Regions from separate parts of the Homo sapiens genome. Here region 1 is linked to region 2. The links come from fine-mapping of genetic effects on gene expression. A gene starts in region 2. The other region holds a variant in brackets. All regions are shown on one strand. Distances are from middle to middle.

Region 1 (5,373 bases), 97 kb after region 2:
GATTATAAGCATGAGCCACTGTGCCCTGCCAAAAGCTGATTTTTAAGGTGGGGGACAGTTTCACCTGCACCGCCTTCTCTGCTGGAAATCATCATCAAGGTCACTGATGACATTATCATCGTCACTGGGGAAGTGCTGGCATAACCTGTAGGTCAGTGCTTCTCAGTCATAAGAAATATTTTTATTATCTTTTTTCTACCCTGAAATGAGTATCACATAGCCAATATAATACATCTATTCATGCATGCTTAAAAAGTCAATATAATGTCCTACCTGCAATGTAAGGAGAAATTAAAGAAGGCCATTTTTACCTTTTCATATTCATTGCTCACACAAAACTGTACTTACTGGAAGATGGAATGAAACCGTTGGATGCTTACATGTGTGTGGAATTACCATGATGAAAAGCTAGTGACTCAAACACTACAAGCGGTTAGGTGGTCAGTGATATGATTTTTCAGAAATGGTGAACAATTCCTGCCAAAATTCCAAAGTAAGCAAGGAGTCTACACTAGAATAACCAGAAACGAACAACATGTACCCGGGACCTGGAAGTGAGGCGTGTATGGTGATGTTTGATTTGAATTTTGGACTAAAGTTCCGTGATGATTAATAGCACAGGCAGCCAAATGAAAAACTTGTCAAATCAATAGTTACGTAGATTTTACTATTAAAAGGAAATAACAGTATCTGAGATGGAATTAAAATTTCCAGGCTCCTAAAATCATTTCCTGTAAATTCTTTGTTCTTTAGGCTATATGACACCAGATCAAAACTTCGGAAACTAACCAGCCATTTTTATGGATTGATGCTTCATATGCCAGCACTGAATTAGGCTTTTGTATTCTATTCGCTGTTTGCAGGTCTTAACTTTTTGTTTTTCTTTTTGAGACAGAATCTCACTCTGTCGCCCAGGCTGGAGTGCCGTGATGTGATCTTGGCTCACTGCAGCCTCTGCCTCCCAGGTTCAAGCGATTCTCCTGCCTCAGCCTCCTGAGTATCTGGGATTACAGACATCCGCCACCACACCTGGCTAATTTCTTATATTTTTTGGTAGAGACAGGGTTTTGCCACGTGGGCCAGGCTGATCTCAATCTCCTGGTAGGTCTTAACTTCTGATTGCAAGGCGGGAACCCTGAGCACTTCAAACTCTGCTTGAGAGAGTTTTTCTGTCACGCTTAACTCACGCAAGGTAGGAATGAATAATTTGCTGCTGCCGCTGCCTCTAGAGACTATTTTAAAGGATTATCTCATGGAAGCTTTCAGAACTTCCCCCCCACCCCCGCCAATTGAATGTGGGTGAGAAACGGACGTGAACTTAAAAAACTTACCAAGCTTGGTTCACCTCTCAGGAGCAGGTCTGCTTAAATTAGCTGCATTGAGCTCCTCGATGTCCTTTTGCGGCGCTGCTGATTCTTTCAAGAACCTTGGCTACCTTGCCAAATGTATCACTCCTTTATAATCTTAAGCGTTTTAACAAATGAAATACAGTTCAGTTTCTGCACTTGGTTTTAAATGTCATGATGTGTCTCAGCAATCCACTTAGTCCATCAAAATCACATTTTGACTTGTCCACATAATCCTTTTAGACTGTTTCTGGATTTATTAAGTGCTTTTTCATGCAGTTGATGAAAAAGCTTTCATTTTAAAAATAATTTCCACATGACGCTGGAGGCCTCCCATTGTAGTTTAACAATAGTTGAGATGTTGTATTGTTTATTCAAAACTGCCAAGTAGCGTCAGTGCTGGTGGATGGGAACCCTGGATGGAATGCTGGGAGAGCCCTGGGGAGGTAATTTAACCTCTTCGTTGTTCAGTCCTGATGTCCAGTGGGTTTCAGCAGCGTGTCTAGGTTTACTCCATTGCCAGGCAGAGGTAGATTCTGCCTCCTCTGCCCCTTTGCATTCCTTGGATCGACCATTGACTACTGGAAGGCATTCAGACCATTACCTTTCTATGCCTTTTCCTTTGCATAAGACCTGCAAAGGAAAACATACTTTCATCCTGGATATTTTTTGGTTTTAGCTTCCAAGTAGGGTTTATGGCCTTTTTTTCTCTTGGGGTTGGGAAGAAGGGCAGTGTTGGAGAGGAAGAGACCCAGAAACACCACCATGCTAATAATAAGGAGGAGAAAGTCGGGCCATGTTGGAGTCCCTCTGCCAATTATACAGATCGTGGCACATAGGTGCAAGGGTGGCATGGCAACCTCTGGACCCCTCACTTTCCACTTTCTCTTACCCATTGTCTCCATAGGACTCAGCGTTTTGTTTCCGAAATCTTTCAACTTCACCTGTATGCTGTGCTATTCTTACCCATTCATTGTACATAAATATCTTTTCTGCTGATTAAAAAAATTCAAGAAAGGAAAGAGGGAGAGAATCTTTTTATAATTGATTCCAGGTTACCCTATGATATTGAAGTTATTGAAATTCACTTTTGTAAAAAAGACTTAATATATCTGTTTTAAAAAAAGAGATAGGGTGTCACTCTGTTGCCTAGGCTAGAGCACAGTGACAGGATCACAGCTTACTGCAGCCTAGAACTCCCGGGGCACAAGTGATCCTCCCACCTTGGCCTCCTGAGTAGCTGGGACTACTGGTGCTTGCCACCACAGCCAACTAATTTTTAAATATTTTTTGCAGAGACAAGATCTCGTTATGTTGCCCAGGCTGGTCTCACACTCCTGACCTCAAGTGACCCTCCTGCCTTGGCCTCCCAAAGTGCTAGGATTACGG[G/A]CATGAGCCACTGTACCCAGCCTATATCTTTACTTTTAACTCTCTTCCTCTTCTTAGTGGCTGGTCCTTTTCCTGACATATACTGCCTAGAGACTGTATGCATAAAATAGCTTAAGTAAATATTATTTAGAAAGAAAATGGTTTTCAAAAAATCACTTTTTATCTTCTGTAGGTGATTGACGTACTTAGAAGGCCTGCAGAGGCCTACACCCTGTGATGTATATTGTACAGTAGGCTTGGCTTCAGCATAGTGGGAATCTCTGGTTTTGAATTTCTAAAGTGACTTGCAAAGGTCCAAGACATATAGTGAAATGTTGAGTTGCAAATTAGGGTCATGTGCTGGATGGGGCTTGTGCTGGGGAACAGGGTCTGGGCTCACGTGTGAACCAGCAGCCAGCTAACCACAGCAGGCGGCCCCTGAACGATTTTGTGGTGCACTCCTTGTTTTAAGCACTTTGCTCCTTTCAAAGTACATTTTTCTTTCTTTGTGAAAATCATCTAGAAAAGAAAAAGTCCACTTTTGAGTGAGTGATACAGAGAAATCTGTAAACTTGGGGTCTCATTAAAATCTTGCTATGTAGCCCTTTCCTTGTCAGTGTCAACGTGCTCAATTTAAAGTACACACCCTCTCAATTATTTGTCTGTTGTCTAGCTCTTCCTAGGAAGCAGAAGAGTGGTTTTCAGCTCTCGGTGCTGCTTATTGGGGATCGTATTGTATTTTGTAGATTTGGCAATGGGCCCATACATCTGTGGAGTGAAAAGCTCCCTAGGTGATTCTGATGTACAGCCATGGTCAAAAAACATTGAAATAGACAAGTGCATGAAGATCAAAGAGTTGAGGGAAAACACTCAACGATGTCACGTCAGTCCCCAAGAACAGGTACAGGGGCTGTTTTTGCTTAGAGCCGGGGAGGAGTTGCAGAAGCCCCGCGAAATTGGCAGTCCTATTGGCAGTAAATTAAGCTCTCAAGGATTGAGTTCTACGTAGCTTCATTCTCCCAAATGACTGAATAGATACTCCCACCTTGTCCTGAAATAGTTGTGAATGAGAGTCTAACTGTTCTTTGCTACTGAATACCAAAAATACTAGTACTTTAGCCAAACCCTTTCTCTGTTGCTTAGAAGCTGCTGAATCAGTGTAGTGCATTTCTCCTATTTTATCCACATCCCCCAACCACATAATTAATGTGATCAAAATAAACTGACCCCCACCACATCCCTGGAAATTTACAGCAACATTAGCATGTCAAAGGCTGGGAAAGTCCTGTAGTGAACAAGACAAAAAACCTTTTAAAAACTTTGTTTGCCCTAAGCTTATTTGCATAGGAAGATACTTTTTGCTCCTATACCTACAACTGAACAGTTTTTCCTTAACACCAGTTTGGGAAAAACTGCCCAAGTCACTTTTTGATTCAGCAGTTTTCTTAGAGTTAATTTCTGACAGCTGAACCTCTCTTTAAAATCCTCTTTGAAGTTGGACTGAATTAACAAATGGAAGGCTTGGCAAAGCAGTTTACTAATTCATAACTCTATCCCTCAGCTTTCTTTGTGTTGCTAAATACTATAATCTTTGACCCGAAAGGAAGAATACTGCTAACAAGTAAATATTTAAAAGGTCCCATGAAATATAATGTGCATGAGTTTGTGCCTGGGGAGACCGTCTACTGGAAGAAAGAAATGACTCACTTTTCATCTCCTAATGAAAGTGAGTTTGTTGTTTTACAGTAGGTTGAAAGGAAGTATTTTGAGTGCTAAGGGCTAGATTTCCTTTTATTTTTAAGTTTAGTTAGCCGTTGGCCTCACTGATTTGAGAATTGCATGTTAAGTCATAATTCCTAAGTGCGTCAGCACTCTCTCTCTGTATGAGTGAATTAGCATGATTGTGAATGAATGAACTCTGTGCTACCAAAGCCCAGCATTTGGAACAGTGAGAGGAAACGGAAACGTGACTCACTGATGTACTTGAAGACTATGAACGGGGAATCACGAACTTCAGAGCCAGACCTGAAGCATGGGAGAGTGGGCAGAGCCTGGACTGGGGCAAGGACAACGGGATTCTAGTCCTAGCAGTGCTCCTGACTGCCTCCGTGTCAGTGCTGGAATCACAGAACCCGTCTACCTCCTGTGATTAATAGGACATGTGAATTATTTGTCACTCGGATCCTTTACAGTTTCAGGATTCAATAAGTCTTTGAATTCTACTGATTCTCTGGTTTGTGTGGAAGTGGGTGTGTATGTTTTAATGGCTTTCAGATGGGATTCATCCAGGCTCCATTAAATCAACTTTATTTTTAATTTTGAAGTGAACTGCCATGACAGAGTTTGGCTAGGAAAGTCCATAACAGAAAATGAGGAAGCAAGTAAACTGATTTATAAGGCTGTGGGCAACTGACTTCCTGTGGCTGTGGCATTTGGTATATAGAATGATATATATGTGATGCTTTTGGAGAAAGGTTAATTATTGTCTACAGGCAAAATTTTTGCTCCATCACAATTGCTTTTAAAAAGCTGAAATAGCAGCTCCTAGCCACCCTGTTTCATATGTCTTACGATATTTAGAAAATATTTAGACCAGCCCACTAAAATATATCCACACACCTTTTTCCTTAAGGGCAATTACCTGCATACTTGTCAGTTT
Region 2 (5,373 bases):
TGGCAGGGACAGAGCCAGCTTTGCACATTACCTTATCTCTAGCCAGTGCCCAACACACAGGCACTCAACTAGTATTTCTTGAGTAAGCAGCATGCTTTTATACCGTTCCTGATGTTTATCCAGTGCTTCATAAATTGCAAAGCATGTTTTTTCACAGCAGCCGTTCCTTTGAGCCTCATAACAACCCTGAAGGTGGTCAGAGTAGGTGATACGAAATAGTTACTGGCCCACATTGTAAAAAATGAGGCGCTGTACAACAGGATAAAGACCAAAACACCACCACCACCACCACCAACACCATAACCCGTATCTGTCTAATAAGTTTTATTTGGAGGAGCTCTTTCCCAGGCCCATTTTTCTCCCACTGCTCCTGTCCCCCAGAGAGGGAACGCGCTTCTCATTACAATCAGCGCTGCTCTGGGAGACCGACTCCCAAAATGCCGTAAAACAGAGGAGCAACCAGGGTCAACTGGAAAGCAGAAACCAAAGAACCCAGATTCCTTTTCTGAGCAAACACAGCGATGGGCCAGTGGGATTTTAGCTTGGGGATATTGGACCCAGTCTTCTCAAAAACTTCCTACCAGAAGGTTTGTGTTAGCGGGTGTCCCATGACCACGATCTCAATAGCATGTGGCTTACATATCTTCCAGGCTCGAATTCAGGGTTCTAGGTTCTAGTCCTCCACCCCTAACTAACATGCTTGGTGGAAGAAACTCAGATTAGTCACATTTCAGCTTGGACCTTTCCAGCTGTAGTAGCAGGCAGCCACAGGGGGAGTCACCTTGCTGAAAAAAACTCACTGGACGCCCCCTGAAAAGAGGTCTTGAGTTGTTCCGAGTCGGACGCTGACTCCTAGTCGGCTACAGAACCCTTGGCCACCGGACATTTAAAGACGTTCTATTTGAGGTCCACCCGGGCGGCCCAGAAGTGTTGGCCACCTTCCAGAAGGGAAGTAGGAGAGAGCAGGGGGACCCCGAGGGGCCCGGGGCGTTCCCCGCGGGGCGGGGCGCTCCTGACTGCGGAGCGCCGTGGGCAGGGGCGCAGGTGAGCAGAGCGAGCGGAGCTGGCCGCGGCCGTCCTGGCGCCTCCGCCCTCCCGGCGCCCGCACTGCGCTGCACCCCGGCCCGGGGGGCGGGCGAGGGCTCTGCCCCACCGCCCGGGGGCTGCCAAGGGGAGTTGGGGCGGCGACGTGGGCGTCCCGGGACTGTGCGCCCGCACCCGCCCCGACAGGGTGCGCTGAGGCGCCGGGGCCGCCACTGGCTGCGGGCGCTGGGCGCGGCAGCCGCGGGAGCCGCAGGTGGTTCCCGGGCCGGCCCTTTTCTCCTCCCCCTTTCCTTTCTTTCGCCTCCCCTCCCTCTCGCCCGGTGTCGGCGGCACTTCCCTCGCTTCCTCCTCCCTCTCCAATCCGGAGGGAGGGAAGGAGCAGCCGGCGCTTTCCTGCCCGCCTGCAAACTTCAGCGGGACTCGCGGCTCCCCTCGCCGCCGCGGCCGCCGCCGCCCAGAGCTGCCCCTGGAACTTCCTCTCGCCGCGCGGCCCGCGAAGCCCTGCGGGTGGAGGAACGCCGCCGGGCGCCAGGCAGCCACGGCTCGGACCCCATTCCTGCCCCGCGCCGCCCGGGTGCCCGCTCGCCCGCGCGCCCGTCCGTCCGTCCGTCCTTCCTGCCCGCCCGGCCTCTCCCCTGCGGGCAGGGGCCGCCAGGCTTCCCTCGGCGCCCCGCCGCTGCCCGGGACTTCCTTTGTGTTGGATGCAGGCTGGCGCCCCGCGCCGACGGGAGGCAGACTGAGGGATCCCGCGCCGCCGGCCCGCCCCCGCCATGCCCTTCCACCAGAGGACCCTGGAGCCCGCGCGGCTGCGCCGGCCCGAGGCGGCGGGGGCCGGGGCTGCGGGCGCGCCACTCTTCCGCTCGCTGGAGCAGGTCAGCTCGCATGCCCTGGGCTGCCTGCTGGCGCAGCTGGCCGACCTGTCGCGCTGCGCCGGGGACATCTTCGGCGAGCTCGAGGGCCAGGCGGCCGCGCTGGGCCACCGCACCGCCGCGCTGCACCGCCGCCTCGACGCCCTGCAAGCCGCCGCTGCGCGCCTGGACCACCGCCGAGTGAAAATCCGTGAGTGGCCGGCGGGCCGGGGGAGGGGAACCGGCGGGGGAGGCACCCGGAGAGCTGCTCCCGCCCGCCCCCTGGCGGCCCTGGGTCGGCGCGGGGGCCGCGGAGCCCCGCGATGTCGGGGTCTCCAGTGGGGACTGCCGGACCCCAGCGGGAGGCTGGGCAGGTGGCAGGGGCGCAGAGCGCTCTGTGACTTTCGGACTCCTGGAGGGTCTTGGCTACCTCGAGAGAGTGGGCGCGGAGGGTGGGAATTGGACAGTCCCCTTGTCTGCTCCTTCTGTCTGTCTGTGTCTGTCTGTTTGGGAGACCCCGGGGCGCTGTAGACAGAGGAGAGCCAAGTTCGTGGGAAAACTGTCACAGGCAGGTAGCCTGTTGGAAAAGCCAGGGGAGAATATAAATTTGGGCATATAGTAGTTACAGTTTTGGAGACTTCAGGACGATCCGTTTGTAAAACCCTGGGGATCTCGGCGAGCGTTGGGGCTGCTTGCCACCTCTCTTCCCGCCGCCTACCTGTGTTCTTACCGACAAGCAAAACTATGCAGACTTTAAGGGTTTTCCCATTTGGCGCAGAATTTTCTTTCTTCTCCCAGACTGACCCACCAGCTCTTTGTGATTCAGAAGACGTTGACCTTGAGTTCAGGCTCTGAATCCCATTCATCTTTGTCCGGCTTCCTCCAACCCTGAAAGTCAAGTCTATGTCCTGATATAGTGATCTCTCCGGTGATCCATTTCATTTCAGCAGCTTAACTGGCTCCGGTGAATGAAGCAACTGGAATTTCCTGCTGGCCCAAAGCAGAGAAACTTTCAGTGTGATGTCTCTGTGGTTTCTCCCTTTTAAGTACGTGAACTTGGTCATAATCCTAAGTGTAAAGAATAAATTGGAGATGGTTGATGGATTGCTGGGTGGGAGGGGAGATGTTGATGTAACACACGCCTAGATTTCAGCAGCTCTGGATGAAATAGTTTTTTCTCCTAGAATCACTTCATATGCAATCTCGAATAGCTCGTTTTCCAGCTAGCTAGAAAAACTTAGCTATATTTTAACTACCTTACAGCCTAAGAGTTCAAAATTTTCAATTATTTAATTTCAGTGAGATTGCTTGCTATAATACATCTTTCTCCAAGTTGTATAATTAATTCGTGGCAGTTTTACATTTTTGCGTTCATCTCTTTGATTGTGCCGTCAACACATTCATATGAATTGTGGACAGTTCCCAACCTGGGAGAGCGTCCCCCTCCAAGAAAAAAAAATCAGTGGGGAGGAATCAAAGTGATCTCATAAGGTTGTTGACATAATCAGAATATATCTACTTAATGTGAGTGATGACTTCATGCATATGGTAGGATACACTGTCCTAGTAGGATGTCATGGTCTATGCGGCAATCACGAGTTGCTTCTATGCGTTTTCTGTCTAGGGTGTAGGTACGTGGGAGAACCAGAATTTTACCCTTGACAAAGAATGTGATGAGGGAGATCTGATTGATAGGTGAACTGATCTATTGTGGGAATTAAAAAACAAGAGGAAACTCCCTGAAGGTCAAGAACTCCTTCCTTTACTAGTTTGGTTTTACATTTAAATGTATCACTTTTCTCTGTTCTTTAGTACATATGCCCCAATAGGCTACTGTCCATAGCCAGAAATCCCCCAAATTCTCCATATTAACTAAGGTTGTTCTAATTACAGTAACTGAAATAACTCTTTTCAAAACTTTTCACAAGTTTGTTTGAATCTTAAGTGGTTGTGATTTCATACCTGTCTTCCAGGCTGGAGTGCTGTGGTGCAATCTCAGCTCACTGCACCCTCCGCCTCCTGGGTTCAAGCAATCCTCCTGCCTCAGCCTCTAGAGTACCTGGGATTACAGGCGCCCGCCACCACGCCCGGCTAATTTTTGTATTTTTAGTAGAGACAGGGTTTCGCCATGTTTGTCAGGCTGGTCTTTAACTCCCAACCTCAGGCGATCCACCTGCCTCGACCTCCCAAAGTGCTGGGATTACAGGTGTGAGCTACCACACGTGGCCCCATTTTTTTTTTTTTAATAATCATGCAAGAAGGCTTTTTATTGAATATAATTATGCCTGAGTATAAATGTACATGTAGAGAAGAAAGCTGACTATCAAGACATTAATTTTTGTGGTTTCTTTCACCTTCACACACTTTGCTTTTTTATGTGCTTAAAAGCAGTGAAATGCCTATGCATTACCATCTGTTAGGATTCTTTTAAAACAATGCCTCAAACCTTGTTTCTGTGTAAAAACTACAGTTTGAAGTTGTTCTGCCATTTTAGGCAGGTCTTCAGAATATCATACTCCATTAGTATGGATGGCTAGACTTTTAGACTTGGAATTGACCGTAAAGGCCATCCATTTCGTGAATTCTTACCCAGAGAGGAAATCCAGTCCAACAGCATTGCAGTTAATTCACCCCAGGTTAGGCTGTGGGTAATGACACATCCGGGCCTGAAGCCCAAACCTTCTGATTGTCTCGCCTGTCGTCCCACTGCCTGTGTTCCTTCCCTTTAGAAGAGTGTGGAGCCAGGCACAGTGGCTCATGCCTGTAATCCCAGCACTTTGGGAGACCAAGGTGGGCGGATCATTTGAGGCTAGGAGTTCAAGATCAGCCTGGCCAACATGGCGAAACCCCGTCTCTACCAAAAATACAAAAATTAGCGAGACTGTCTCAAAAAAAAAAAAGGTGTGGAAATGGGGAGCAAAGTTTAGATATGTTCCTTAAACAGTCCTAAGGATAACTGTGACCGTTAATTCCACCCTTCTTGTCAGATAAACCATTTAATGAGTCTCCCCAGGAGCAATTAACAGAATCCAGCAGTTTACCAAAAGCCTCTAGCAGTTGGGGACAGCATATTTCAGTGACCAATAATAGCTTTCTACCATAAGAAAGGATGTGAGAATGTCAGTGGAACAATTTAAAAAAATGTATAAACACTCTTTGCAATACAGAGACAGTATTTTAGTCCTGTGGGCTGGCCCTGCTGGCCTCAATGATCCTGAGAGGTATTTCATCAAGTTTGCCATTCCTCAAAATCTCATGGGTAGAAAGTTATCCAAAATAATTTTTTGTCATGCCTTGGGGAGAATGCATGTTATTATTCTGTTCATTGAAGACTCCTACTTTCTTTCCCTGACACCCCCAGGTTGAGGGGCTGTTCCCATGGCATTGGTTCACCTCGATCACCACATTTACCAAGGGGACTTCTGCACCCCTCTGCCAGACAGCAGGACCTTTGAGGTCCAGGATGGCCGAGTCTTTGTTT

The links.
Region 1: its variant is fine-mapped to the expression of NHSL1-AS1 in whole blood (INTERVAL, PIP 0.95).

Annotation. Positions count from the first base shown.
Region 1 is chr6:138,592,676-138,598,048 of GRCh38, reverse strand. It overlaps a transcript of NHSL1 not described here. Among named protein-coding and RNA genes, the nearest start is that of NHSL1, 96 kb to the right of the region's middle. RefSeq lists enhancers at 4,445-4,514, 4,543-4,837. The variant G/A (reference allele first, on the strand shown) is at 2,736.
Region 2 is chr6:138,689,206-138,694,578 of GRCh38, reverse strand. It overlaps NHSL1-AS1 (NHSL1 antisense RNA 1), which reads right to left and starts at 2,911. Exons shown (of 4, transcript NR_033896.1): 1 at 2,611-2,911; 2 at 32-186. It overlaps LOC124900217 (collagen alpha-1(III) chain), which reads right to left and starts at 1,853. Exons shown (of 2, transcript XM_047419637.1): 1 at 1-1,853. The coding sequence starts at 1,816. The coding sequence ends at 887. It also overlaps a transcript of NHSL1 not described here. RefSeq lists silencers at 1,065-1,204, 1,245-1,304, 1,785-2,134, 2,145-2,194 and an enhancer at 2,317-3,516.